2 separate regions of the Homo sapiens genome follow, and region 1 is linked to region 2. Evidence: fine-mapped expression QTL. Tissue or cell type: whole blood. Region 2 holds a variant in brackets; the other region holds the start of a gene. All regions are shown on one strand. Distances are between the middles of the regions.

The links.
Region 1: it holds the start of CD28, and the variant in region 2 is fine-mapped to the expression of CD28 in whole blood (INTERVAL, PIP above 0.99).

What each region holds. Positions count from the first base shown.
Region 1 is chr2:203,694,319-203,710,832 of GRCh38, forward strand. It overlaps CD28 (CD28 molecule), which reads left to right and starts at 12,321. Exons shown (of 4, transcript NM_006139.4): 1 at 12,321-12,430. The coding sequence starts at 12,379. RefSeq lists an enhancer at 12,201-12,350.
Region 2 is chr2:203,734,869-203,750,393 of GRCh38, forward strand. It overlaps CD28 (CD28 molecule), which reads left to right. Exons shown (of 4, transcript NM_006139.4): 4 at 1-4,044. The coding sequence ends at 44. Among named protein-coding and RNA genes, the nearest start is that of CD28, 36 kb to the left of the region's middle. The variant G/C (reference allele first, on the strand shown) is at 3,338.

The DNA of each region.
Region 1 (16,514 bases), 40 kb before region 2:
GCAACAGCTGGAATAATACCACACAGCTCAAACAGAAAGTCTCAGGCTTCATTATTTCCCCACAATCACCATGTGACAATTCGAATCTCTGTAAGGCAGAGCTTTGGGGGAAGATTAGAAACTGAAATGAAAGGCAAATTTCTAGCTGGAATTTAGATCAAAGAAGATATTATCCTGGTAGGCTTGCTGTGTACAAGAGAGAGCCATGGGGCTTCTCACTGACCAGCTTGACCACAATAATTCTTAAAGACTCTTCAATGATACTTTGCAGTTTATACTGGTATATGTTATTAAAGGATTGTACATCAAGGAGGAATACTATGCTAATGTAAAAATCGGGTTCTGGTGGCATTCATGCTGTAGAGTAAAATCAATCCACATAAATATATTGAACCTATATTCAAGGATCCATTCTGGCTGTTCCAACAAAGATTTATTGAGCCCCTACAGTAAGTGTGAAATGGAGATTCATCAAACTTTCTTTGTGTCTTAAAAGCAAGGGGAGATTTACACTTTGTGTGAGATATGGACAATATATTGAGTGAGGTATTGTCATCCCTATTTTACACATGAGGAATTGAGGCTGTGACTTTATGAGATTATTATATAACTAGAAAGTGGTCCAACTACATTTGATCCCTAAATCTGTGGGACTTCAAATCTGTGTGTTAGCTACTGGAATTCCCAAGTCAGTTACCTTTCCTGTTCTGCATTCTAGATGGTAAACTGAGTATGGGTATGCATTCTGTGCAGGGAGCTCCTCATCTCTCAAGGTCTAGATGGGAACCACAGAGGCCCCAGGGGAAAGAGGAGGGAGATGCTGAGTGGCTAGGCATGACTCTGGCCTTGGCTGTAGGAGAAATGAGTTGTGAAGGTGTTAGGTCTTTGAGTCTTCTGTATCATTGAGCACAGCTCAGACAGAAATATAGGGTAGAGAACAGACAGGAATATATATGTCCTAGCTAGTGGCAAAATGCTATTTTCAGCAACACTATATCTAGTATTATATCCTTGGGAAACCAGGGATGAGAAGATTACCATGGCCAGAGTACCAGAGAGAAAAAGGTTCACAATTGCAGGCATATTGATTGGAGGTCAGAGAGCAATGGTGGAGTGTTTCATTCCTTCAGTAAATGCCTTATTGAGCCCTTACTATGAGCTAGACACAGGGGATACAGCTGGAAATGAGAGAGACATGGATTCACCCTCATCATGTTTATAGTCTACTGGAGGACATAGACATTAAACACTTAATGGCACGAACACATCTGTAGTTACTTTTTCTTCTTGGCATTCCCAGTGCGCTGTATAAAGAGTGCAATGGAGATTATAGCAGGGAGACCTGGTTTAGATGGGTCAGAAGTGGGGAGTGTGTGTGTGTGTGTGTGTAGCCAATGGTGGCTGGAGACAGTATCTTTGAAGAGGTTCTGTTTACTTTGATCCTGGAAGAATGAGGGCAATTTACTCGGATTGGAGATAAAAATCCTGACCAGAGAGCAATAAGTGGTGAAGGCCCTGAGATTCATTCCTCACTCAACTCCCTCACAGGATCTTATTTTCAGCCTTAGTTCCTGTTACGTTTCAAACAGCCTATAGAATTTGGTCACCTGTATTATATTTTTCTCTAACAAGCAATGTGGTCGGGACTTCAATCTGCTCATTGATTGATTAAAGTTGTTTGTTTCATCGTGATGCATATGTCCTTGAATATCAAGGGCTTATGTGGATTTAACAAATCTGGAATTTCTCCAGAAAAATACAGGTGCACTTCTATGAAGCACAGTTAATTATGACTTCCCAGAGCCGTTTGGGCCACTCCACGGTTTCCTAAGTGACTCCATTTAAGCTCTAAAGAGATACACCATGTTAGATGTCTTGCAACTGAAAGGTAATGAATACCCTTATGTTTTTGTCCTCATAACTCTTAAAATTAAAAAAAATATATACTTAGGAGAAACAAATACAGGTTTCTTTTTTTTTTTTGAGATGGAGTTTCACTCTTGTTGCCCAGGCTGGAATGCAATGGCGCAATCTCGGCTCACCACAACCTCCGCCTCCCAGGTTCAAGTGATTCTCCTGCCTCAGCCTCCCTAGTAGCTGGGATTACAGGCATGTGCCACCACGCTTGGCTAATTTTGTATTTTTAGTAGAGATGGTGTTTCTCCATGTTGGTCAGGCTGGTCTAGAACTCCCGACCTCAGGTGATCTGCCTGCCTCAGCCTCCCAAAGTGCTGGGATTACAGGCATGAGCCACTGTGCCCGGCCACATACAGGTTTCTTACATGCATATATTGCATGGTGGTGAAGTCTGGGCTTTTAGTGTACCCACCACCCAAATAGTGAGCATTGTACCCCATAGGTAACTTTTCAACCCTCACCTGCCTCCCACCTCCCACCTTTTGGTGTCTCTAATGTCTATTATTTCACTCTGTATGTCCACGTGTACATTGTTTAGCTTCCTCTTTTAAGTGAGAACATGTGTGTTTGACTTTCTGTTTATGAGTTATTTCACTAAGGATAATGACCTCCAGTTCCATCCATGTTGCTGCAAATGATTTCATTATTTTTTTGGCTCTGTATTATTCCATGGTATGTGTGTATGCATTGCTGCAAATGATTTCATTATTTTTTTGGCTCTGTATTATTCCATGGTATGTGTGTATGCGTATGTGTATGTGTGTGTGTGTATACATTATACACCTTTTGTACGTGTGTGTGTGTGTGTGTGTGTGTGTATATATATATATATACCTCCAATGTATAGCTATAGCCCATATTCTTTATTCAATCCTCTGTTGATGGACTCTTGTGTTGATTCCATATCTTTGCCACTGTGAATAGTGCTGTGCTAAACATACGAGGGCAGGTATCTTTTTGACGTAATGATTTCTTTCCCTTTGGGTATATACCCAGTTGTGGGAGTGCTGGATTGAATGCTAGTTCTATTTTTAGTTCTTTGAGAAATCTCCATACTATTTTCCATAAAGGCTGTACTAATTTACATTCCCACCAGTGGTATACAGGCATTCTCTTTTCTCCTCATGATTATTGGCTGTTTTTAGACTGTTTATTAATAGCCATTCTGACTAGTGTAAGATGGTATCTCACTGTGGTTTTAATTTGCATTTCTCTGATGATCAGCAATATTGAGCATTTTTTCATATGTTTGTTAGCCACTTGTATGTCTTGTTTTGAAAAATGTCTGTTTAACAAGCAAATGCTGAGGGATTTTGTCACTACCAGGCCTGCCTTACAAGAGCTCCTGAAAGAAGCACTAAATATGGAAAGGAAAAACTGGTACCAGCCACTGCAAAAACACACCAAAATATAAAGTCACCATGAAGAAACTGCATTAACTAATATGCAGAATAACCAGCTAGCATCATGATGACAGGATCAAATTCACACATAACAGTATTAACCTTAAACGTAAATGGGCTAATGCCCCACTTAAAAGACACAGACTGGAAAACTGGATAAAGAGTCAAGATCCATCGGTGTGCTGTATTCAGGAGACCCATCTCACATGCAAAGACACATAGGCTCAAAATAAAGGGATGGAGGAGTATTTACCAAGCAAATGGAAAGCAAAAAAAAGCAGGAATTGCAATCCTAGTCTGTGATAAAACAGACTTTAAACCAACAAAGATCAAAAAAGACAAATAAGGGCATTACATAATGGTAAAGTGATCGATGCAACAAGAAGAGCTAACTATCCTAAATATATGTGCCCTGAAAACAGGAGCACCCAGATTCATAAAACAAGCTCTTAGAGACCTACAAAGAGACTTATATTCCCACACAGTAATAGTGGGAGACTTTAACACCCCACTGTCAATATTAGACAGATCAACAAGACAGAAAATTAACAAGGATATTCAGGAGTTGAACTCAGCTCTGAACCAAGTGGACCTAATAGACATCTACAGAACTCTCCATCCCAAATCGATAGAATATACATTCTTTTTAGCACTGCATAGCACTTATTCTAAAATCGACCACATAATTGGAAGTAAAACACTCCTTGGCAAATGAAAAAGGACGGAAATCATAACAAACAGTCTCTCAGACCACAGTGCAATCAAATTAGAACTCAGGATTAAGAAACGCTCAAAACTGTGCAACTGCACGGAAACTGAACAACCTGCTCCTGAATGACTACTGGGTGATAACGAAATTAAGGCAGAAATAAAGAAGTTCTTTGAAATCAATGAGAACAAAGACACAACGTACCAGAATCTCCGGGACACAGTTAAGCAGAGTTAAGAGGGAAGTTTATAGCACTAAATACCCATATCAGAAAGCAGGAAAGATCTGAAATTGACACCCTAACATCAAAAGTAAAGTAAATAGAGAAGCAAGAGCAAACAAATTCAAAAGCTAGCAGAAGACAATAAATAACTAAGATCAGAGCAGAACTGAAGGAGATAGAGACATGAAAAGCCCTTCAGAAATTCAGTGAATCCAGGAGCTGGTGTTTTGAAAAGATTAACAAAATAGATAGACCACTAGCCAGACTAATAAAGAAGAAAAGAGAGAAGAATCAAATAGACACAATAAAAAATGATGAAGGGGATATCACCACTGATCCCACAGAAATACAAACTACCATCAGAAAATACTATAAACACCTCTATGCGGCCGGGTGCAGTGGCTCACGCCTGTAATCTCAGCACTTTAGGAGGCCAAGGCGGGCGGATCATGAGGTCAGGAGGTTGAGACCATCCTGGCTAACATGGTGAAACTCCATCTCTATTAAAAACACAAAAAATTAGCCGGGCATGGTGGCAGGCGCCTGTAGTCCCAGCTGCTCGGGAGGCTGAGGCAGGAGAATGGTGTGAACCTGGGAGGCGGAGTTTGCAGTGAGCCGAGATTGCGCCACTGCACTCCAGCCTGGGCGACAGAGCGAGACTCCGTCTAAAAAAGAAAAAAAAAACCAAAACACCTCTATGCAAATAAACTAGAAAATCTAGAAGAAATGGATAAATTCCTGGACACATACACCCTCCCAAGACTAAACCATGGAGAAGTCAAATCTCTGAATAGACCAATAACAAGTTCTGAAATGGAGGCAGTAATTAATACCCTATCAACCAGAAAAAGCCCAGGACCAGACAGAGTCACAGCTGAATTCTACCAGAGGTACAAAGAGGAGCTGGTACCATTTCTTCTGAAACTATTCCAAAAATTAGAAAAAGAGGGATTCCTCCCTAACTCATTTTATGAGGCCAGCATCATCCTGATACCAAACTCTGGCAGAGACACAACAAAAAAAGAAAATTTCAGGCGAATATCCTTGATGAACATTGATGCCAAAATCCTCAATAAAATACTGGCAAACCGAATCCAGCAGCACATCAGAAAGCTTATCCACCATGATCAAGTCGACTTCATCCTTAGCATGCAAGGCTGGTTCAACATACACAAATCAATAAATGTAATCCATCACATAAACAGAACCAATGACAAAAACCACATGATTATCTCAAAAGATGTGGAAAAAGCTTTGATAAAATTCAACACCGCTTCATGCTAAAAACTCTCAGTAAACTAGGTGTTGATGAAACATATCTCAAAATAATAAGAGCTATTTATGACAAACCCATAGCCAATATCATACTGAATGGGCAAAAGCTGGAAGCATTCCCTTTAAAAACCAGCACAAGACAAGGATGCCCTCTTTCACACTCCTATTCAACATAGTACTGGAACTTCTGGCCAGGGCAATCAGGCAAGAGAAAGAAATAAAGCGTATTCAAATAGGAAGAGAGGAAGTCAAATTGTCTTTGTTTGCAGTTGACATGACTGTATATTTAGAAAACCTATCTGTATTTTTAGAATGCTGTATATTTAGACTGTATATTTAGAAAACCATCTCATGCCAGTTAGAATGGCGATTATTGAAAAGTCAGGAAACAACAGATGCTGGCGAGGCTGTGGAGAAATAGGAACTCTTTTACACCATTGGTGGGAATGTAAATTAGTTCAACCATTGTAGAAGACAGTGTGTCAATTCCTCAAGGATCTAGAACCAGAAATACCATTTGACCCAGCAATCCCATTACTGGGTATATACCCAAACGATTATAAATCATTCTACTATAAAGACATGCACACGTATGTTTATTGGAGCACTATTTACAACAGCAAAGACTTGGAACCAACCCAAATGCCCATCAATGATAGACTGGATAAACAAAATATGGCACATATATGGGCTGGGTGTAGTGGCTTACGCCTGTAATCCCAGCACTTTGGGAGGCCAAGGCAGGTGGATCACCTGATGTTGGGAGTTCGAGACCAGCCAGACCAACATGGAGAAACCCCATCTCTACTAAAAATACAAAAATTAGCTGGGCCTGGTGGTGCATGCCTGTAATCCCAGCTACCTGGGAGGCTGAGGCAGGAGAATTGCTTGAACCTGGGAGGCAGAAGTTGCAGTGAGCCAAGATCGTGCCATTGTACTCTAGCCTGGGCAACAAGAGCGAAACTCTGTCTCAAAAAATAAAAAAATAAAATTAAATTAAATTAAAAAAAAGAAAATATGGCACATATATACTATGGAATACTATGCAGCCATAAAAAGAATGAGTTCATATCCATCGTCTCAGCCCAAAAACTCCTTCTGATAAGCAACTTCAGCAAAGTCTCAGGATACAAAATCAATAGGCAAAAATCACAAGCATTCCTATACACCAATAATAGACAAGTAGAGAGCCAAATCATGAGTGAACTCCCATTCACAATTGCTACAAAGAAAATAAGATACTTAGGAATACAGCTTACAAGGGATGTGAAGGACCTCTTCAAGGAGAACTACAAACCACTGCTCAAGGAAATAAGAGAGGACACAAACAAATGGAAAAACATTCCATGCTCATGAATAGGAAGAATCAGTACCATGAGATTGGCCATATGGCCCAAAGTAACTTATAGATTCAATACTATTACCATCAAGCTACCATTGACTTTCTTTGCAGAATTAGAAAAAACTACTTTAAATTTCATATGGAACCAAAAAAGAGCCTATATAGCCAAGAGAATCCTAAGCAAAAACAACAAAGCTGGAGGCATCCTGCTACCTGACTTCAAACTGTACTATAAGGCTACAGTAACCAAAACAGCATGGTACTGGTACCAAAACAGATATATAGACCAATGGAACGAAACAGAGACCTCAGAAATAACACCACACGTCTACAACCATCTGATCTTTGACAAACCTGACAAAAACAAGCAATGGGGAAAGGATTCCCTATTTAATAAATGGTGCTGGGAAAACTGGCTAGCCATATGCAGAAAACTTAAACTGGTCCCCTTCCTTATAGCTTATACAAAAATTAACTTAAGATGGATTAAAGATTTAAATGTAAAACCTAAAACCATAAAAACCCTAGAAGCAAACCAAGGCAATACCATTCAGGACATAGGCATGGGCAAAGACTTCATGACTAAAACACCAAAAGCAATCACAACAAAAGCCAAAATTGACAAATGAGATCTAATTAAAACTAAAGAGCTTCTGCACAGCAAAAGAAACTACCATGAGTGAATAAGCAAACTACAGAATGGGAGAAATTTTTGCAATCTATCCATCTGACAAACGTCTAATATCCAGAATCTGTAAGGAACTTAAACAAATTTACAAGAAAAAAACAACCCCATAAAAAGTGGGCAAAGGATACGAACAGACACTTCTCAAAAGAAGACATTTCTGCAGCCAACAAACATGAAAAAAAGCTCATCATCACTGATCATTAGAGAAATGCAAATCAAAACCACAATGAGATACCGTCTCACGCTGGTTAGAATGGCAATTATTAAAAAGTCAGGAAACAACGGATGCTGGCGAGGCTGTGGAGAAATAGGAACTCTTTTACGCTGTTGGTGGGAGTGTAAATTAGTTCAACCATTGTGGAAGACAGTGTGTCGATTCCTCAAGGATCTAGAACCAGAAATACCATTTGACCCAGCAATCCCATTACTGGGTATATACCCAAAGGATTATAAATCATTCTACTGTAAAGACATGCACACGTATGCTTATTGCAGCACTATTTACAACAGCAAAAACTTAGAACCAACCCAAATGCCCATCAATGATAGACTAGATAAAGAAAATATGGCACGTATATACTATGGAACACTATGCAGCCATAAAAAAGTATGAGTTCATGTCCTTTGCAGGGACATGGATGAAGCTGGAAGCCATCATTCTCAGCAAACTAACACAGGAGCAGAAAACCAAACACCACATGTTCTCACTCATAAGTGGGAGTTGAACAATGAGAACACATGGACACAGGGAGGGTAACATCACACACTGTGACCTGTCAGGGGGTGGGGATCAAGGGGAGGGAGAGCATTAGGACAAATACCTAATACATATGGGGCTTAAAACCTAGATGATGGGTTAATAGGTGCAGCAAACCACCATGGCACACGTATACCTTTGTAACAAACCTGCACGTTCTGCACATGTATCCCAGAACTTGAAGTAAATTTAAAAAAACAAAAAGAAAGAAAAATGTCTGTTCATGTCCTCTGCCTACTTTTTAATGGGATTGTTTTTTTCTTGTTGAGTTGTTTCAGTTCCATGTAGATTCTGGTTATTAGCCTTTTGTCAGATGTTTAGTTTGCAAATATTTTTCCCATTCTATAGTTATCTACTTACTCTGTTGATTGTTTCTTTTGCTGTGCAGAAGCTTTTTAGTTTATTTAAGTCCCATGTGTCTATTTTGTTGCCTTTGCTTCTGAGGACTTGTTCATAAATTCTTTGCCTCGGCAGATGTAAAAAAGAGTTTTTTCTTGGTTTTCTTCTGGGATTTTTATAGTTTCAGGTCTTACATTTAGGGCTTTAATGCATATTATGTTAATTTTTGTATATGGTGAGAGGTATGGGCCCCGTTTCATTCTTCTGCATATAGCTAGCCAATTTTCCCAGCACCATTTATTGAATAGGGAGTCCTCTCCCCAGCATATATTTTTGTTAACTTTGTTGAAGATCAGTTGGTTGTAGATATGTGGCTTTATCTCTGGGTTCTCTATTCTGTTCCATTGTTCTATGTATCTATTTTTATACTAGTACCATGCTGTTTTGGTTACTATAGTTTTACCATGTAATTTGAAGTTAGGTAATGTGATACTTCAAAGCTTTGTTCTTTTTGCTTAGGATTGCTTTGACTATTCAGCTCTTTTTGGATTCCACACGATTTTTAGGATTGCTTTTTCAAATTCTGTGAAAAATGACATTCTTTTGTTCTGACAATTCTTAACCCCACTTCAGACCAGTTTTCTCATCTGTAAAATGGAGATAATAATAATCTTCCTCACAGGTTGTGTATTAAATGAGATCTGGAATGTAAAGTTCTTAGTATGGAAATGCTATTATTTTTACTGAAAATGTTGTAGGGTCTCAGTATCCTGTGTATTGCCGGATTTAAGGTCCTTATTTTATTTCTGTCATTTCTACCTCTTGGTATATGTGAATGCTATTGGATTTCAAAAGCAAATGTGAAAGGATTCTAATGAAATGGTTTGCTTCTTTAGTGTCATACATGTTAAAACATAGGAAGGCAAATGTCAAAGTTTGTGTTTCTTTTTATTCTATGGAAAGAAAATTAAATATGGCTCATCAAATAATAAGGCCAATAATATTTAATTATTGTTTTGTGAATTCGTATAAATGAGCTGACCTCTCTGGGCTGCAGCTTCCTTCTCTGCAAGATAAGGGAATTAGGCCAGATGAGTGAACTGTTTCTTTTTCAGCTAAGTTTGACCCGATTACTACTATTTACATAGTATTAACTAGATGCTATGTAGTCATCTTTAATATGCTTGAAGACAGTTATTAACTCACTCCTTAGCCTTTTGTTGTTGATCATGGAAAACTACTGGGTATCTTTGTTTCTTCTGTGTATATTCTCAGTATGTATAATGAGTCTCAGAGCCTCTTGTTTTAAGATCTGGGTAGGCTGGTGGCTCTAGAATATGGATGACCTTTTAGGAAAGGTCACCTTGCCATCTGTAAATTTTCCCCCAGATAGACTTCAGGCCCTGGGGAAGGCATGGGTTCCCCTAACTGGATAGAGGATCAGAGCCAGGAAGACTGTGTCAAATTCTAGAAGTGAATCTTCTCCAGGACTCAGGGCATAGCTTTGTCACTTACCTATAGTTCAGAAGTGTGAGTGAATCATTTCCAAGGACAAATTTCTCCAAAGGACCAAAAGATGTGTTAGTAAGAGGGGTTCACAAAGACTGTGTTTGTGGGAAAATTGAAGTGTGAACAAAGAAGGTCTACCAGGACAGGAAATACTTTTGATCTGTCATTTATCAGATCAGGAGGGAGGGACATGAAGCCTGCCTCCTCTTACAGCTAGGTCATCAAAGAGTTTGACTGTAGCATTTTAAAATAGCGAAGAAAAAAAGGTAACAACACTAGGGGTTTGTTAAACAATTTATGATATAATTAGAGAATGGAATATTATGCATCAATTACAAATAATGTTTATAAAGATACTTAAATGACATGGGAAAATGTTCAAGATATAACAAATAATAGTACATATCTGATGAAAACTATAAGTAAAACATGATATTAAACATGTAAAAATCTTAACAGACCAACAGGTGGAAGGCAGTGGACCAGAATATTAGCAGTGTTTATATTAGGGTGGTAAGAATGTGGATGAATCTTGTTTTAATGCTTATAATTTTTCTAAACATTCTCAATGAAATATGCCTTACTTTTATAGTCAGAATAAAAAGCAATACAAGTTATCTTTTAAAACAACCCACATACACAAAACCCCCAACTAGAGTAATTGCACAAAGCTTAGATTATCAAAAAGAAGAAAAAAATTACTGGAAAAGTTTTGAAGAAGTCATTGAGTACAAGATACTGACGTAGGTGCCGGAAGAAGAGAGCAGTTGGCCGTGCTGGTGGAATAACCCTCTCTGCAAAGGGCCTGGGAGTTGAAGAAGGGTGCAGTCGGGTGGTGGTTATGAATCTCAGAAATCCTGCCACGGAGCCTCCTTTTGTGCCCTATTACTTAACCTTGAGGGACATAGAGAGCATGAGACACCAAGGGGCTTTTGGTTGCCTTACTGTCCCACTAAGAACATAGAATGTTGTTTTGACTTTCCCTTTGCTTAGGGAACCTCCCCCAGATACTCAGCTGGCTGGCTGCTTGCACGTAGAATGGGTTTTGCAAAGTTCCTAGAAGTGAGTTGGAGGAGGCTTGACATAAATCAAGCACTGTGTGCTAAATGCTCCAGAGGGCTACCTTATGTCCTACACAAATGTTACATTTCTAATATTTGTAACTCCTTTAAACGTTTATGCAGATGTTTCCCAATTCCTCAGTAGAATTCTTACCATTATCTTTTTGACACAACCTGTCCCCATCCTATGAAAATCTCTCCTCTGCTAGAGACTTTATTCTTTCTTTCTCTCTCTCCCCCTTCCTTCCTTCCCTCCCTCCCTCTTTCTTTCTTTCCATCTTTCTTTCTTTCTTTCTTTCTTTCTTTCTTTCTTTCTTTCTTTCTTTCTTTCTTTCTCTTTCTTTCTTTCTTTTCTTTCTTTCTTTCTTTCTCTTTCTCTCTCTTTCTTTCTTCCTTTCTTTTTTCTCTCTCCCCTTCCTTCCTTCTTTCCTTCTTTTCTTTTCTTTTCTTTTCTTTTCTTTCTCTCTTTCTTTCTGTCTTTCTTTTCTCATTCTGTTGCCCTGGCTGGAGTGCAGTGGCATGATCTCGGCTCATAGCAGCCTCCACCTCCTGGGTTCAAGCGATTCTCCTGCCTTAGCCTCCCTAGTAGCTGGGATTACAGGTACCCACCATGATGCCTGGCTAATTTTTTGTATTTTCAATGGAGACGGGGTTTCACCATGTTGGCCAGGCTCGTCTTGACCTCCTGGCCTCAAATGATCCACCCACTTTGGCCTCCCAAATTGCTGGCATTACAGGCGTGAGCCACTGCACCCGGCCTGTTCCTTCTTAAGAACACTTTGTCTCCCCTTTAATCTCTGCTGGATTTCAAGCACCCCTTTTACACAACTCTTGATATCCATCAATAAAGAATAATTCCCATAAGCCCATCATGTAGTGACCGACTATTTTTCAGTGACAAAAAAAAAGTCTTTAAAAATAGAAGTAAAAGTCTAAAGTCATCAAAACAACGTTATATCCTGTGTGAAATGCTGCAGTCAGGATGCCTTGTGGTTTGAGTGCCTTGATCATGTGCCCTAAGGGGATGGTGGCGGTGGTGGTGGCCGTGGATGACGGAGACTCTCAGGCCTTGGCAGGTGCGTCTTTCAGTTCCCCTCACACTTCGGGTTCCTCGGGGAGGAGGGGCTGGAACCCTAGCCCATCGTCAGGACAAAGATGCTCAGGCTGCTCTTGGCTCTCAACTTATTCCCTTCAATTCAAGTAACAGGTAAACAATGTTAATGTCTTTCTTTCTGTAAATATTTTTTGAGGTCTTCCAATTGGCTTAGTTTATTTTAAATTTCTAACAATGTGTGAAATTTGAACATTTGAAGTGTAGTTTTGCTGTAATAGGGCAATGTGTTATTTTGAAAATCATTGATTCTCAGACTACAATATAGTATCTTAACAAAAGTCCCTTGGAAATAAATTTTCTAAGCTATTAGTTTCTCTAGCTATTAGTTGATAGTGTCCCAAGAATTTATTATTATTATTATTATTTTAAATTGAGATGGGGTTTCACTATGTTGCCCAGGCTGGTCTCAAACTTCTGAGCTCAAGCAATCCACCTGCCTCTGCCTCCCAAAGTGCTAGGGTTACAGGCATGAGCTACCATGCCCGGCCAATAATTTTTAATTTATGTATCGTTTCTTTCTTTCTTTCTTTTTTTTTTTAATTTAAGAAAGCTGCTGTAAGTAGATTGGCTCTGGAAGCTCTGAATTTAGGTTGCCTATGTTCCTAACACAGGTCCAATTCTCACTAGGTAAGCTTAGGCTTAGCTATTATTTAAACTCTCCAAACCTCAGTTTCCTTAACTGTAAAGTGGGAATAATAATAAACCTCACCTCAAGGTCATTGTGAGGTAAAATGAAATAATCCATGCGAAGGGCTTAGCTCAGTCAGGCTTCAAGATAAATGTGAACTGTAATTACTCTATCTACCTGAATTGAATGAGTTCCAACATGAATTCTGGAGTCACCACAGAAGCTGCTACAACACCAATATTAATAAATTAGTTTTCTTTTACAATCGGCCAAAATGTATTTTCTTAGATTAAAATTCTTTAAGTTCCCAATGACGATGATGAGGAGGATAATACATCTAGCACTTTGAGCAGCACACAGTTCTCGTAACTAGAAGGTAGGTATTACAGTTAACTTCATTTCAGATGAAGAGACTGAGGGGTAGGCACATTAAGGGATTTGCCCAAGGATGTACAGGTGGCAGCTATAGGAGGCAGGGTCTGAACCACCTTAGTCTGACTCCAGTGCCGGTGTTGTTGATTATTATGCTATTCCATCTAACATGGTGTGATTTGTAATTTCATGGACTCAGGTAAATCCAGGGTTAAATTAACTTCGGAAAATCACAAGCACAATTCCTAACAGAAAGAATTTGTTACTTGGGTGGGCTGGAGTAAGATGCTCATTCAACGTGTTCTCAGAGTTAGAAAAAGGCCCCCGCTTGGTTCAAAAACTGGACTGATAGGGGTCAACAGTCATGCTTAAATAAGGACAGTTATTTTTCCCTGAAAGATACATTGAAAAGCCAGTATCCTCAATTTTCTTTCTTATTTTGGCAGTACAGAGACTGCATTATTTGTTGTTATTCTTAAACATTAAGTGTACATAGCCCAAAGAGTATAATTTCCCAATCTGCAGAGGTACAGTAGTTGCATATATACCCGTTTATTTTATGGTCTGACGTACCAGTGAGCACAAATTGTGTATATTTATAAAACGTGTTGATATAATGAAAGACATGAGTTGGCAATGAGATCTGGTACCAAGCGTTTACAGCTACCAAATATATTCTACAAGAATCTTTAACATTTATTTTAAAAAGGTCAAACCTTATTTTTAAGAGATCTCTCAAACTTAAAGAATATTTAAAATTACTTAATTTGTTAGACAGTCAAGGGAAGCCTACCCTGACTGAAAACTATTTAAAATTGGTAATTGTACACTAAATACTTTTCTGATGTGCTTTGTGGACACCTATCTGTCATCAACTTATTCACTCTCTTTTGAAGAGTTTTTGGTAAGACTCAAAACTTTGTATGTTTTCTTTAGAACATTTATTAAAAGGGGACTAGCTAGATAAGTGGTTGGAGAGTTCACACACATAGGGCCTTTGTTTTCTACTTTGACATATATTTACTTTTCAAATGCCAATTCACTTTTCTAGTAACTTTTAGCATTTGATACTGAGTGGCTATCTAATGAAGAAGGAAAGAGATGGGAGTGAAGGGGACACTTTTACAGTCTTTTCCAGTAAGAAAACTTACGAGCAAGAAAAGAATGACCACATAAAAAATGTATGATTTGGCCTGGTGTGGTGGCTCACGCCTGTAATCGTGGGACGCTGAGGCGGGTGGATCACTTGAGGTCAGGAGTTGGAGACCCGTCGGGCTAACATGGTGAAATCCCATCTCTACTAAAAATACAAAAAAATTAGCAGGGTGTGGTGGCATGCGCCTGTAATCCCAGCTACTTGTGAGGCTTAGGCAGGAGAATTGCTTAAACCCGGGACGCGGAGGTTGCTGTGAACTTAGATTGCACCCCTGCACTCCAGCCTGGGAAACAGTCTCAAAAAAAAAAAAAAATTATGCTGCATTCTAATCAAATAGTGCAAAGCTTCTTGTGTGCTTTGCCTTTCTCTGTACACACCTTCCATTAAGAAATTATAGATAGGGAAATTCTCTGGTCAAAGTGTAACTGTCCTTCCTAGGTCTGAGAAACCACTGTTATGCCTGTGTTGAGATGTGTATCTGTGTGCGTGCATGTGTGTGTATGTATGTATATGAAGAATAGTTCTTTTTTCCATTAATTTAATAATGTGTGTGTATGTATGTATATGAAGAATAGTTCTTTTTTCCATTAATTTAATAATGTAACTTATTTGTTTACAGCATAGCTTAAAATATTTATTCTATAAAGGTTAAGTCTAACCTGATTCCTTATGAGTTGGATGACAGTGTAGAGAGATATTTATGGCTAAGTTAAAGAAGTGTGATTTAGGAAGAGTGAGGAAACCTTAACTTAGATAAGCCCTTTGCATGTTTTCTACTAGACTCGGATAATTGTGCAACTGAGATCCACAGAGAGTATTTTGCTGGACTTTGGGATAGGAGTCCAGCCCAGAACTACAGAGCCTTAAGAGGGAAATGCTCTGGGATTGATGATAGAAGGATGGTATGCACAAAATACTTGACATTGGTCACATGTTTCAGGCCATATTTGCTATTTTTTAGCAAGCCTAATCATCCAGTGTGAAGAGAAAAATCAGCATATTACCACTTATTTTTCCATGAGATCATTCCTTTTCACTTCTCCAAAACTTGGGCAAAAAACTGTCAAAATGGCCAGTTTGGACAAAGCTAATTTCTCCAGCGCCTTCCCTTAGCGCTTATTTTTCTGAGAGAGGCATGGAAAGCAGGAAAATAACTGACATTTAATAAAAAGTCATCAGCAAAGCAATTAAAAATTTTATTTGTACTCTAGTCTTCAGCCAATGACTCCCCTGAGCTGGTTGTATACGGAAAGAAGTAATTTGTTTCTCACAGTTAAGTGTTGCTCTGAGACTGGGCTTGGGAAAGTAAGGTGAAAAGATGAATGTCAAAAAATCAACAGATTGCCGTATTTACATGACTTCCAATATGCTGTGGCCAGTTTTTCTGTTAAAAGAAATTGACTGGATGTTTTTGTCATTTCAAGTAAATTTGATGGATATTTCAAAAGTATAGGCATTGCTTAAGGATTTGTTTTACTCTACTACCGTGCCCTAGTTAACACATTGTGTTTTTTAAGGCAACCATCCAGCAAGGACGTTTACAGCAAGGACTGCAAAATTAATATCAATATATCAATACCAGGAAATGGAATGAGTCATTGCCACAGATAGATTAGAAATAGAAATGAATCTGTGATTGTAACTCCAAAGCTCTCACATTCAAACTTTTACTATGGGTGGGGAGAGGATCTCGCTGCCTCCCCTTCTTTAAGACATAGACCCTCCTCCTTTTTAACGTCTTATGCCTTTTTTCAAGGGTGGAGAAATGCCATATGATTACCATTTGGCTTTTATCTTGTGTGGATATCTTCCTCCAAGTATTTCCTGCAAGCAGTGTGCTGACATTTACAAAAGGAAAATTTTTATGCCACCAACATCCCAGAAGAAAATTTGTTGTGGTTTATCATCTCTAACACAAAAGCCCTTTATTAACTAGTGTAGGCATTGATGAGGATACGCAATTCATGTCAGACTTGGTTGTCTAAAAATCAGAGGACGGACACTCCTTCAAAGCACAATTG
Region 2 (15,525 bases):
AGCCCTATGCCCCACCACGCGACTTCGCAGCCTATCGCTCCTGACACGGACGCCTATCCAGAAGCCAGCCGGCTGGCAGCCCCCATCTGCTCAATATCACTGCTCTGGATAGGAAATGACCGCCATCTCCAGCCGGCCACCTCAGGCCCCTGTTGGGCCACCAATGCCAATTTTTCTCGAGTGACTAGACCAAATATCAAGATCATTTTGAGACTCTGAAATGAAGTAAAAGAGATTTCCTGTGACAGGCCAAGTCTTACAGTGCCATGGCCCACATTCCAACTTACCATGTACTTAGTGACTTGACTGAGAAGTTAGGGTAGAAAACAAAAAGGGAGTGGATTCTGGGAGCCTCTTCCCTTTCTCACTCACCTGCACATCTCAGTCAAGCAAAGTGTGGTATCCACAGACATTTTAGTTGCAGAAGAAAGGCTAGGAAATCATTCCTTTTGGTTAAATGGGTGTTTAATCTTTTGGTTAGTGGGTTAAACGGGGTAAGTTAGAGTAGGGGGAGGGATAGGAAGACATATTTAAAAACCATTAAAACACTGTCTCCCACTCATGAAATGAGCCACGTAGTTCCTATTTAATGCTGTTTTCCTTTAGTTTAGAAATACATAGACATTGTCTTTTATGAATTCTGATCATATTTAGTCATTTTGACCAAATGAGGGATTTGGTCAAATGAGGGATTCCCTCAAAGCAATATCAGGTAAACCAAGTTGCTTTCCTCACTCCCTGTCATGAGACTTCAGTGTTAATGTTCACAATATACTTTCGAAAGAATAAAATAGTTCTCCTACATGAAGAAAGAATATGTCAGGAAATAAGGTCACTTTATGTCAAAATTATTTGAGTACTATGGGACCTGGCGCAGTGGCTCATGCTTGTAATCCCAGCACTTTGGGAGGCCGAGGTGGGCAGATCACTTGAGATCAGGACCAGCCTGGTCAAGATGGTGAAACTCCGTCTGTACTAAAAATACAAAATTTAGCTTGGCCTGGTGGCAGGCACCTGTAATCCCAGCTGCCCAAGAGGCTGAGGCATGAGAATCGCTTGAACCTGGCAGGCGGAGGTTGCAGTGAGCCGAGATAGTGCCACAGCTCTCCAGCCTGGGCGACAGAGTGAGACTCCATCTCAAACAACAACAACAACAACAACAACAACAACAAACCACAAAATTATTTGAGTACTGTGAAGGATTATTTGTCTAACAGTTCATTCCAATCAGACCAGGTAGGAGCTTTCCTGTTTCATATGTTTCAGGGTTGCACAGTTGGTCTCTTTAATGTCGGTGTGGAGATCCAAAGTGGGTTGTGGAAAGAGCGTCCATAGGAGAAGTGAGAATACTGTGAAAAAGGGATGTTAGCATTCATTAGAGTATGAGGATGAGTCCCAAGAAGGTTCTTTGGAAGGAGGACGAATAGAATGGAGTAATGAAATTCTTGCCATGTGCTGAGGAGATAGCCAGCATTAGGTGACAATCTTCCAGAAGTGGTCAGGCAGAAGGTGCCCTGGTGAGAGCTCCTTTACAGGGACTTTATGTGGTTTAGGGCTCAGAGCTCCAAAACTCTGGGCTCAGCTGCTCCTGTACCTTGGAGGTCCATTCACATGGGAAAGTATTTTGGAATGTGTCTTTTGAAGAGAGCATCAGAGTTCTTAAGGGACTGGGTAAGGCCTGACCCTGAAATGACCATGGATATTTTTCTACCTACAGTTTGAGTCAACTAGAATATGCCTGGGGACCTTGAAGAATGGCCCTTCAGTGGCCCTCACCATTTGTTCATGCTTCAGTTAATTCAGGTGTTGAAGGAGCTTAGGTTTTAGAGGCACGTAGACTTGGTTCAAGTCTCGTTAGTAGTTGAATAGCCTCAGGCAAGTCACTGCCCACCTAAGATGATGGTTCTTCAACTATAAAATGGAGATAATGGTTACAAATGTCTCTTCCTATAGTATAATCTCCATAAGGGCATGGCCCAAGTCTGTCTTTGACTCTGCCTATCCCTGACATTTAGTAGCATGCCCGACATACAATGTTAGCTATTGGTATTATTGCCATATAGATAAATTATGTATAAAAATTAAACTGGGCAATAGCCTAAGAAGGGGGGAATATTGTAACACAAATTTAAACCCACTACGCAGGGATGAGGTGCTATAATATGAGGACCTTTTAACTTCCATCATTTTCCTGTTTCTTGAAATAGTTTATCTTGTAATGAAATATAAGGCACCTCCCACTTTTATGTATAGAAAGAGGTCTTTTAATTTTTTTTTAATGTGAGAAGGAAGGGAGGAGTAGGAATCTTGAGATTCCAGATCGAAAATACTGTACTTTGGTTGATTTTTAAGTGGGCTTCCATTCCATGGATTTAATCAGTCCCAAGAAGATCAAACTCAGCAGTACTTGGGTGCTGAAGAACTGTTGGATTTACCCTGGCACGTGTGCCACTTGCCAGCTTCTTGGGCACACAGAGTTCTTCAATCCAAGTTATCAGATTGTATTTGAAAATGACAGAGCTGGAGAGTTTTTTGAAATGGCAGTGGCAAATAAATAAATACTTTTTTTTAAATGGAAAGACTTGATCTATGGTAATAAATGATTTTGTTTTCTGACTGGAAAAATAGGCCTACTAAAGATGAATCACACTTGAGATGTTTCTTACTCACTCTGCACAGAAACAAAGAAGAAATGTTATACAGGGAAGTCCGTTTTCACTATTAGTATGAACCAAGAAATGGTTCAAAAACAGTGGTAGGAGCAATGCTTTCATAGTTTCAGATATGGTAGTTATGAAGAAAACAATGTCATTTGCTGCTATTATTGTAAGAGTCTTATAATTAATGGTACTCCTATAATTTTTGATTGTGAGCTCACCTATTTGGGTTAAGCATGCCAATTTAAAGAGACCAAGTGTATGTACATTATGTTCTACATATTCAGTGATAAAATTACTAAACTACTATATGTCTGCTTTAAATTTGTACTTTAATATTGTCTTTTGGTATTAAGAAAGATATGCTTTCAGAATAGATATGCTTCGCTTTGGCAAGGAATTTGGATAGAACTTGCTATTTAAAAGAGGTGTGGGGTAAATCCTTGTATAAATCTCCAGTTTAGCCTTTTTTGAAAAAGCTAGACTTTCAAATACTAATTTCACTTCAAGCAGGGTACGTTTCTGGTTTGTTTGCTTGACTTCAGTCACAATTTCTTATCAGACCAATGGCTGACCTCTTTGAGATGTCAGGCTAGGCTTACCTATGTGTTCTGTGTCATGTGAATGCTGAGAAGTTTGACAGAGATCCAACTTCAGCCTTGACCCCATCAGTCCCTCGG[G/C]TTAACTAACTGAGCCACCGGTCCTCATGGCTATTTTAATGAGGGTATTGATGGTTAAATGCATGTCTGATCCCTTATCCCAGCCATTTGCACTGCCAGCTGGGAACTATACCAGACCTGGATACTGATCCCAAAGTGTTAAATTCAACTACATGCTGGAGATTAGAGATGGTGCCAATAAAGGACCCAGAACCAGGATCTTGATTGCTATAGACTTATTAATAATCCAGGTCAAAGAGAGTGACACACACTCTCTCAAGACCTGGGGTGAGGGAGTCTGTGTTATCTGCAAGGCCATTTGAGGCTCAGAAAGTCTCTCTTTCCTATAGATATATGCATACTTTCTGACATATAGGAATGTATCAGGAATACTCAACCATCACAGGCATGTTCCTACCTCAGGGCCTTTACATGTCCTGTTTACTCTGTCTAGAATGTCCTTCTGTAGATGACCTGGCTTGCCTCGTCACCCTTCAGGTCCTTGCTCAAGTGTCATCTTCTCCCCTAGTTAAACTACCCCACACCCTGTCTGCTTTCCTTGCTTATTTTTCTCCATAGCATTTTACCATCTCTTACATTAGACATTTTTCTTATTTATTTGTAGTTTATAAGCTTCATGAGGCAAGTAACTTTGCTTTGTTTCTTGCTGTATCTCCAGTGCCCAGAGCAGTGCCTGGTATATAATAAATATTTATTGACTGAGTGAATGAGTTTTACATGGCCTTATGAATTAACGGTGAGTCTAAATGTTATAATCATACTTTGAGAGGGAGAAAGCCAGTTCTATTTTCTACTTTCCTCTTAAGAAGTTCAAAAATTCATTTTATTAAAAAAACAGGAGGTAAAATATATACACAGCCAAATCTAGTGAAAGAAAATCTGATGAATATAAGTTCATTTACGTTTTAGAAATTTTTGTGCAGTGAGGAAAACCAGTACTGTTAGAAAAGTCATGCCAACTCAGCCACTGTCAGGAGTAAGTTGATTTTCCATTGAAGTCCCCAAATTCCCTCTTAATGGAGTATTGGCTATATCTTAAACATATCTTTAGTTTAAGACTTCTGAAAATGTTGTCTTTGTCTAAAATGTTAAAATCCCATCCTACTACTGACCTGCTACTCTTTTTTCTGGGGTGATTTTACCCCCAACAAATTCTATAAATGCCTTCTCTGGCTCTGATTCAAAAAGTGCTCACAAATGGAAATGCTGGGGACAGAAAATTTCAACTTCTTCACCTGTCATACTCATATCATAGCTGAACACTCTAATAGCACACACACACACACACACACACACACACACAGACCCACACACACACACACACACCCCTATCATCTTCTGGGTAGGGGAAGGGAAAGGCGCTTGAACAACAGACACAAGAGCTGGTCTAATAATTCATGTAGCACCTTCTGTTTCCTTCGTTGAAATTTTACTCTGAAGGTGACTCAGAGTCAATTAAATTGGTGTGCAATGAGTTCATCTCTAAACTGATTCTTTTCTTTGGTGAAATGAAGCTTATTAAACTTAATAAAGGTAATTAAACTTGAAAAAGATGAGCTTATATGTCTCTTACTACTCCAAGAAAGACTGAACTCAGCTGGTTACTCATGGATAGTTCAATAAGACAAATCAAATCAATTGGAAAGGAACGAGATGGGTAAAAAAAAAAAAGCCATTAAATGAATCTGCTCAATAAGCACTCCTTTACCATGCTAATAAAAATAATGTAACCCAGTTCTGTAAAAAGGTTCTAGTACTTTGAAACTCAAGTTCAAAACAAAATAAAATGCAAACTTCGCTTCACCTAACACCTCCCACAACATTCTAGCTACCCAACTGGGTGAATATTGTAATTGCCCACAACCCCGAATTCACTTTTTCCCTCCAGTATGATAAAACAGATTGATTCCCTTTTAAAGCAATACCCTTTCTTCTCTCCCATCTTGTCGGTATCAGAGATAATGGATAGGTGAGAAAAAATTAAAGAAGCTTCTGGATTCATTGTAATGGGGACCTAACCATCACACTATGCAGCAGCAAATGGGATGGTCTGGAAAGCAGACCAGAACCTTGTCTGGTAACTTTGCTTCTAATGTCTGTCTGTGTTTCCTAAACTGAGGCCTAACTCTTGACTTTTTGACAGTGGTGCTCATAAGAAAGTTTGGGGCTGGGCACGGTCACTCATGCCTGTAATGTCAGCACTTTGGGAGGCTAATGCAGGAGGATCACTTGAGTCTAGGAGTTCAAGACCAGCTTGAACAACATAGGGAGACCCTGTCTGTATTAAAAAAAAAAATTAGCCAGACGTGATGGTGCAGGCCTGTAGTCCCAGCTACTTAGGAGGCTGAGGCTGCAGTGAACTGGGATCATACCCCTTCAAGAACACATGTGAATGGTGGGGCCTCTCAGCTTTCTCTGATTTGGCAACCCAGAAGAAATATGTGCTTTCTCTTTGAAGATTCACAGGATCCTAGCACTTGGAAACCTAGGCCACTGTCCAGAGCAGAAGGTCACACAATTTCTCAGAGTGACTTTTGTTCATTTCAGGGTGTTGACACCGGGCCCAACACTTGAAAATTGCTTGAGATGATAAATTGCTTGAGGTGATCAAAGAATATATCAGCTCTTCAAAGCTGACCTCATTCTTGGTGCAACTCTCAGGGCCAGAATGTGTGCTTCCCGAAGCTCATTTTCCTATCTGATTTGCCTGTTGAAACTCTGTGAAAGACCCTTGAATGCTAGGAATTTGAAGGGACAAAAAGTTGAAGAAAGGTGAATGGATTTCAGGGTGGAAGTGGACTGGATTTTACTCTCACTTCATCAGGCAGAGCTATCTCAGTGATAAATTGAAACTCTCCTCTGGCTCCAAAGAACAAATCATGAGCTGGGTGGAAATGTCAGTTGAGAAGAAGAGCAGCAAACAGCTTTGTTTTCCTATAGTTGTGGTTTTACATGGTGATGATGACACACGAAGATGAAAATGTGCAGCATGAACTCCAGTTGTTATCTGAGTGAGCATCTCTGCCAACACTGAAGGATATGTGTGGGTGTCACCTGAAAACAAAGAGAAAGACAGAGAGAGAAAAAGAAGAAAAGGAGGCCCTGTTTCGGAAAGAAGAGCCAGTTAATCAAAGATCAGCAGTGACAAGTGGCGCTGTTTATTTCATGAGCTTTATATGTGATTTCCTTCCCCTTGCTAATCTCGTCTGAATTTATTCTCTGGACTAAATATATTTGCATCTGGTGACTGAGGAAGGGGTGGAAAAGGTGACCTTGAATGGGCATCGGGGTAGTTACCATAGTTATTTAGTCATTTCTTCAGTCTCTTGGGCACACACTTAGCTTCCCAAATGGAGGTTTCTGCTAACTTTTGAGAACCTGTGACATATTACACAGGGAAGACAAACTTCAGGTGGTTGTTGGGGACCCTCTTTTATCCCCAACCCTATGCAATGCTTGTTTCATTTGCTTTATGTTTCTCCTTCCTCTCTTCTACTTCATTCATTCTAGAACTAGTTAATGGGCACCTGCCCAGCACTAAGATGTGGGCTAGGTACAGGGATGTGGCAGTGTGCAGCACAGATATTACCTCCACACTTCCGAAGTGTAGAGTGTCTGCTTTGTATATTACTTCAGTTTTTTTTTTCTTTTCCTGCCCCCTATATCCTGCTTCTAGGGGTAACCACTTAGTCTTGATTTTGGGACTTAGATCTTAATGTGGCTACTTGATAGCCTTTGTTGGTTTGCCTGAAATTCATTTCTTTGACATGTTCCTATTTAACATCTCTAACTCTTTCAATGTCATAGATCAGGAATCAGCAAATTTTTTTCTGTTAAGGGCCAGATAGTAAATATTTTAGGCTTTGTGACTATACTGTCTCTTATAGATAATAAGTTTTGCCACTGTAGTGTGAAAGCAGCCATAAACAATATATAAACAAATAAGCATGGCTGCATTCCAATAAACCTTTATTTATGGATATTGATATGTGAAGTTCGTGTGATTTTCATGTCATGCAATATTACTTTTCCTTTGTTTTTTTCCCCCAACCATTTATAGATGGAAAATCCATTTTTAGTTCATGGGCTGTACAAAGGCAGGTAGTGGGCTGGACATGGCTTATGGGCTACGGTTTGCTGATCCTTGACTTAGATCTAAGCTGCAACCTTAGCTATAGGCTTATTTTTGAGTTCCAGCCACCTTCTACATTTTTAGGGCCAGAAGGAATTGGTTTGAATGTGTGTAAAGGCTTCTTGGGAGTGCTGAGAGTCAAGCATCTCTTTTGAAAGAAGGACATGGATCAATAAAGAAGAAGGAAGAGCTTTCATCTAAGGAAAGCCATTTGAGGTAGAAGAAATGGGAAGTTATAAGCAAAGGGAATGAGAAGCTGTTTCAGGAAGACAGAGTCTTCTGTATATTATTATTATTAATTTTGACAGAGTCTTGCTCTGTCACCCAGGCTGGAGTACAGTAGCATGATCTCAGCTCACTACATCCTCTGCCTCTCGGGGTCAAGCGATTCTCATGCCTCAGTCTCCTCAGTAGCTGGGATGATAGGCACACGCCACCACTCCCGGCTAATTTTTTTATTTTTTATTTTTATTTTTAGTAGAGATGGGGTTTCACCATGTTGGCGAGGCTGGTCTCGAACGCCTGGCCTCAAGTGATCCACCCACCACGGCCTCCCAAAGTGTTGGGATTACAGGCATGAGCCACTGTGCCTGGCCTATATTATTGATGAAAGCCTAAACATCTTGGGAGCTCTTGTTACTCTTTTCTCAAGTCCTTTCTACTCTTTTCCCTCTTTTCTAGGCATCACATCCTTGTAATCTCCAAGGAAACAAATTTCTTTCTTTCTTTTTTTTTTTTTTGAGATGGAGTCTCGATCTATCGCCCAGGCTGGAGTGCAGTGGCACTATCTCCGCTCACTGCAAGCTCTGCCTCCTGGTTCATGCCATTCTCCTGCCTCAGCCTCCCGAGTAGATGGGACTACAGGCATCCGCCACCCACCACCACGCCTGGCTAATTTTTTGTATTTTTAGTAGAGACAGGGTTTCACCATGTTAGCCAGGATGGTCTCGATCTCCTGACCTCGTGATCCGCCCACCTTGGCCTCCCAAAGTGCTGGGATTATAGGCATGAGCCACCGCGCCCGGCCAGGAAACAAATGCACAGAAGGAAGGGGGCAGAAAATGGTCTGTGTCCAATGTGATGAACAGGCTTGACTTCCCTGCTAATTCTTCCCTATGTAGTACATCCAAATCCAACTCTGGGTGGGTAGAGATCAGAAGCAGCTGTCTCAGAATTGGCCTCCTACTTTCTACCTATCTCATGTTTCCAGTCTGCATTTGGCTGCCATTTATGAGTGGCCAAGAGTAACCCCTCATGAATCTACATTAAGGCTCAGCATTTCACAAGTAGCTGATGAAATCAGTATTACTCAGATCAGAAAGGCACCGACCTAACCCTTACCATCCCTTGCCCCCATTCCTCACTCCAGTCTTGTTATACCCAAGGTACAAATCGTTCCTGGAAGCAGCCCAGCATATGGGGGCACCCTAAGCCACACACCCAGTCACACCATCTGGGCAATTTAAAAATAGGGCCAAATGGAGCATTTAGACTGGTCTGTCCAGCCAAGATCAGGAAATTGCCTCTAAAAGGTCAGATGATTAAGATTATTGTACCAACAGTCTAGGATGTCAGTAATGAAAAAAAGCTTCTGGCAGAATGAATTTTCCTGACTTTACACATGGTGTTCCAGTTCTGAGTTGGGGTGAACAGCTTTGGGAAATCCCAAGATTTTTCTACTCCAGAAAATAGTGCTACTATGTACATTTATGCACTGTGTGCCTTGCACAAAGGCCCCTAGTGAAGGGAATGAAGAGGGCTGAAATCTAGTCAAGCTCCCCTTATCAAGCTCTGCACCTGCTTAATGAAGGAGAGGGCGCCTTCTCTAATGCCCGCATGTATGGGCTATTGAGGCCCTGATAGAATGCTAGCCTTTCTGCCATTTGGTTACTGAGCTTTATAGAAATTATATCCCCATTCTCAAAGCAGGAATTTTCTAGGATGAGTAATAGTTAAAACAAAATAAAACTACCCCTCCCCCACAAAATGGAATGGTTCTAAATATCACAAAAATTTATCTCCTCGGTCCCTTCTTTAGTCTTCCCTTCACCTTAGCTCTGCATGTTTTAATTTAGTTGGTTGGTTTTTCTTGACTTACACTGGGTGGGTATGTCTTTGGAGAGTAATGAGAGAAGAAACTTCCTAGTTCGTGTCCTAGTTTGGCTCTTAGAAGAAAAACAAAAAATGTTTTTGTGACCTGAGGAATACTAGGTAATATAGCTTGGATATTTGTCCTCTCCAAATCTCATTTTGAAATTTGATCCCCAGTGTTGGAGATGGGGTCTAGTGGGAGGTGTTTGGGTCTTAGGGGCGGATCCCTCATGAATGGCTTGGTGCCATTCGTATGGGATTGAGTTCTTGCTCTTAGTTTTGGGGAGATCTGGTTGTCAAAAAGAGTCTGGCATCCTATTCAGTGCCTCCCTTCTCCCCTGCCTATTTCTCTCTCTTTCTCACTCTTTCTCTCTCTCTATCTCTCACTTCCTGCCATGTGATCTTTACATACCAGCTCCCCTTCCCCCTTCTGCCATGACTGGAAGCTTCCTGAAGTCCCTGCTAGAAGCAGAATAGAGTGCTATACTTCTTGTACAGCCTGCAGAACTATGTTCCAAATAAACCTCTTTTTGTTATAAATTACCCAGCCTCAGGTATTCCTTTATAGCAATGCAAATGGACTAAGACACTGGGTTTGGGGTTAGTTTTGGGGATGTACCTAGAACTCTTCAGTTAATGTAGTCTACTCTTATTTCTTAGTTATCAGTACATGAGGGGACCAGACTAAATAACCTCAGAGCTCATTCCTATAATTGTTTTCATACTCCATATTATAACTCTCCTAGAATTATCTTCCCATCATGAATACCATTGTTTTGGGTTTCTCCACTATCACATTTCTAAGTCTTACAGATATAAATATTTTATGTTTGAGATTTGTCAACCAGGATTATTTGAATAAATGTATAATTCTCTACAACAGTTAAGTTTACTAATTTATCAAAATTGTTTCCATCACTTTTTCTGGAGAAAATAATGAATTCTAAAGTTTAGTTTAAAGTTAAAATAATGAATTTTAAAGTTTAATGAAGTTTAAGGTTTAAAAAATGATGTAATAGTTTACTATGTAAATACTATGTAAACTATTACATCATTTTTTAAAGCTTGTCATTTTCCAAATAAACTTCTTATACATTATTGAAGTCTTCATAGTGAACTACATCTTGCATGTGATGGGTGCTCAGAATATCTTAATGAGTGAATCAATGGATGGATGGATAAATGAATGACTATCTTTCATTTGATAAATATCCGCAAGCTATTTTGGTTTTTGACAAATTAGACGAAACAGGTATTATGAAAAGACTTGGGAAAATTGAGGACAAATTAGTTAACTAGATACTATGAAAAGACTTGGGAAATTCATATTTTTAAAATTATTGAAATGTATTAATTAATATGCATTTTAAGACATTGTTTAGGCATTCAGAAGCAAAAACTGTTTATCCTTCCTTGGCAACAAACAGAACTCTAATTGTGTTCAGTTATCTACTCTCCATGTGCTCTGGGGAGTTCCAGGGAGTGGATAAGGATTAGTTTAAGCCAGAATGGTAGTCCTAACCTTCTCATCAGTGATTGGTTTAGGCATGGACACATGATAAAATTCTGACCAATAGCCTGACGGGTCTCTGATAAAGTTTCTTTTTGCTCTTTTTTTTATTTTGAGACAGTCTCACTCTGTTGCCCAGGCTGGAGTGCAGTGGTGCCATCTTGGCTAACTGCAACCTCACTGCAACCTCCAGCTTCCTGGGTTCAAGCAATTCTTGTGCCTCAGTCTCCTGAGTAGCTGGGACTACAGGCATGTACCACCATGCCTGGCTAATTTTTGTATTTTTAGTAGAGACAGGATTTCACCATGTTCGCCAGGCTGGTCCCGAACTCCTGACCTCAAGTGATCTACTTGCCTCGGCCTCCAAAGTGCTGGGATTACAGGTGTGAGCCACCGTGCTCAGCCTCTCCTTGCTCTTTAAAAAGAGATGTTTGGAAACAAAGTTTCCTTTCTGCTATAGAATGTTATGTCTGCAAGCAGCATCTGATATAGCCTCTTTGCGACCAGGGGAGGAATTGGCCTGAGAACATGCTGAGGCAGGAAGAGCAGAAAGAGGGGAGGAACCTGGATCTTGGTGACATTATTGAGCTGCAGATTGAGCCGACTTGAATTCTCCTTGCTTCCTTCCTTCCTTCCTTCCTTCCTTCCTCCCTTCCTTCCTTCCAGTTCTTGTCATGTGAGACAGTAAATAACTTTATTGTTTAAGCCCTTTTGGGTTAGATTTTCTATTACATGAAGTTTAAAGCATTCTGATAACTTCATGTTTATTGATGTGTATAAATACTAATATATTCTATTATTTGGGGGATACAAAGAATTTGACTCAATAGTATCTTGTTCTATTGACATGTTCAATTATTAATCACTGATAACCCTGAATAACTAAATGTTATTACCACATTTAGGACAATATCCACGTCCACTGACATATGAAATTTGGGCAATTTGCTTCTTTGGGAAGCATTATAAATCACAGAACAGCAGAGGATACAAAGACCCCCACAAGAGATCATCAAGATTTTCTTCTTCCCTTCTTTTTGTCATACACATTGCTGAGAAGGAGCACCTCCAGGAAGGAACCAAATTATTTGTATTTTTCTGTTATTTTTAGTTTTGAGACCCGGTCTCACTCTGTCACCCAGGCCGGAGTGCAGTGGTACAGTGGCTCACTGCAACCTCTGCCTCCCAGGTTCAAGCAATTCTCCTGCATCAGCCTCCCAAGTAGCTGGGATTACAGGTGCCCACCAGCACGCCCAGCTAATTTTTGTATGTTTTCAGTAGAGATGGGGTTTCATCATGTGGCCGGGCTGGTCTCGAACTCCTGACCTCAAGTGATCTGCCCGCCTCAGCCTTCCAAAGTGCTGAGTTTACAGGCATGAGCCACCAAGTCCAGCCAATATTTGTATTTTGAATTAAAGTATGTATGTGAAAAATGAGAACACTGGCTCACTTCCTGGTAATATAAAATACAACATATCAGTAAAATCTTCCATGATTCTCCTAGTTCAGTGATCTCTTTCTACCCCTGTGTTACCTAATGCTGGCCTAAACTCCAGCGGCCTGTAGAGGAGATTGGTTTTTGTAGTTGTAAAATAATATTTTAGGCTGGGTGTGGTGCCTCATGCCTGTAATCCCAGTACTTTGGGAGGCTGAGGCGGGCAGATCACGAGGTCAGGAGATGGAGGCCAACATGGTGAAACCCTGTCTCTACTAAAAATACAAAAATTAGCTGGGCGTGATGGTGCGTGCCTGTAATCCCAGCTACTTGGGAGGCTGAGGCAGGAGAATCGCTTGAACCTGGGAGGCGGAGGTTGCAGTGAGCCGAGATGGCGCCACTGCACTCCAGCCTGGGCAACAGAGCGAGACTCTGTCTCAAAAAAAAAAAAAGTCACGTTTAAAAATTCAAAGTATACTTATATTTAAAATTTTCTAATAATGAAATGTTATCATAAGACCAAAGTAGATGTACTGGGCCTGGATCTTCATCCTTTCAGTCTGTCTTTGATTCTGACAGTGGCACCTCCAGCAACATTGATCTTCTCTGGGGGCCCTGGGATAACACATTAGCTTCTAGAATGGCTTGGGGATTTCCTGCTTGTGTCCTATGAAAAGGACACAAACTGGCCACACATGTGTTCAGTCTAGTGATGGGGACTGAGAAGGACAGAAAGAGATTTGACAGAGTTTTGACCTTAGCAATTTACTACTTGGTTGGGGAAATAACTCGTCATAAAGGTAGTATATACTAAGCTCTAATTAAATGATATACAATTCAAGTTCAGAGGTGAAAGACTATTGTGGACTGGAATTCCAATCTGGCCCTGAAAAGCAATACACAGCTTTTCAAACTTGTGGGAAATAGAATAGCTTTGAGAAGGAGTACTTGCATTTTTAATTTTTAGAAATATTGCCAATTTGCTTTGCACAGAGGTTATATTGATATACAGTCCCATCAGTCACGTATGAGAGAGCCTTTTACCCTATTTATTCTCATTAGCACAGTGTTAACATGTTTGATCTTTGCCAGTTTGATAGTTTGAAATGATATTTTATCATTGAGTTGATTTGTGTTTCATTTTTATGAATCAGATTCATCATCTTTTCATTTCTCATAAGAGTCTTTTTTTTTTCTGTGAACTGTCTACTCATATCCTCTGCCCATTTTTTTTTCAGTTGTATTGTCAGCTTTTTAATGTAGAATCACTTCAAAGAAACTATTCCTTTGCTTGTAACTCCTTCATTTTAGAGATGAATAGATGTAAGAGGTAAGCTTATTGTTTCTTTGTTTATTCATCAGCTTTTATTAAGTATCCATTCCATGCCAGGCACTGCACTTGTCACAGGAATTAGATATAGATCCTGTCCTCAAGAAGCTCCCAGGCTATGGGAGACACAAAGCTTTTCACATGGTTTTCAGGTCTATAATAGAGCTATACATAGGGAGTTATTGTGGCTCAAAGGTGGGGCATCACCTAACCATGCAAGGAGTTGGGGAGGCTCAGGAAAGTATTTGTAGATGACAGCAGCTGAATCTTAAAGAACAAGGGAGGCTTAGGCAAGTGACGAAGCGGGGAATTACATTTCAGGTAGAGAGACTAACTTGTGCAAAAACACAAGCACGGTGCCTTTGAGGAGTTCAATGTGTGAATTCAGGGTGGCTGGAGAATAGGTTAAGTCCAAGAGAGTATAAGAGATGAGACCACCTCTATTAAGACAAACTCTTTATTCCTAGGAATTTGGGGCTTATCCCAAGGGCAAGGGAAAGCTAATAAAATATATAATTTTAAAAATTTGCTTAAAATTATTATTTATAATATATAACCTATAATCTTACATTGCAGAAAGCTATAAAATGAAAACTAAATGTCTTCCTCCTCCTTGTCCCCTGTCCCACAGTTCTATTTTTCAGAGGTTACCATTTTTTTTTTAACAGTTTCCATTTACCTCCATAACTCTCAATATGTTTATCTCCCTGTTTCTTGATTTGTCAAACCGAACAGTATTTACAGACTCTCCACTATGAAGATGAAGAATTCAGCTCACTTCTACTAACTCCCACCCTTCCAATTTTTTGGAAGGTTTTAAGCACAAGAGGGACCTGATTAAATTTGCATTTTGGAAAGATTATTTTGCTAGCAATGTGAGGAGTGGTTCAACAGCTGTTGCAGTAAATCAAAGAACATAAGTTGGAGGGATGCATTAGTGGAAGGTACCTAGAGGACAGAAAGGTGAGGACTATTGGAAGACTAGAAGATAGAGGGAAGGAGAAGGTCACTCCTTGGTTTTATTTATTTATTTATTTTTGGAGATGGAGTCTTGCTCTGTCGCCCAGGCTGGAGTGCAGTGGCACGATCTCAGCTCACTGCAACCTCCGCCTCCTGGGTTAAAGCAATTCTCCTGCCTCAGCCTCCCAAGTAGCTGGGACTACAGGTGCCCGCCACCAGATCTGGCTAATTTTTTTTGTATTTTTAGTAGAGACGGGGTTTCACCATGTTAGCCAGGATGGTCTTGATCTCCTGACCTCATGATCCACCTGCCTCAGCCTTCCAAAGTGGTGGGATAACAGGCGTGAGCCACCGTACCCGGCCACTCCCTGGTTTTAGACTGGTGCAGGTGGTACTTACACTCTGTGAGCTAGAGATGCAGGAGGAGGAATTAATTTTAGTAGGGGGCATGATGTTGAATTTCACTTTGGACATGTTGAATTTGGCGTGTTTGTGAGAATCCAGGTGGAGATGCCTTATGATGCAGCTGGACAACTAATAGAGTTGCGGCGGTCAGGAGTGAGCAGAGGCTAGGGAGATAGATCTATGAGCCAGCCCTCAATGTATAGTTTATTCATTTTCTCATTCATTTAATAAATATTTATTGAATACCATCTAAGAGCTAAATGCTGGGTATAAAATGATGAGAGAAGAGACAAATTTCCTCACCTCATGGAGCTTTTAAGCTGGC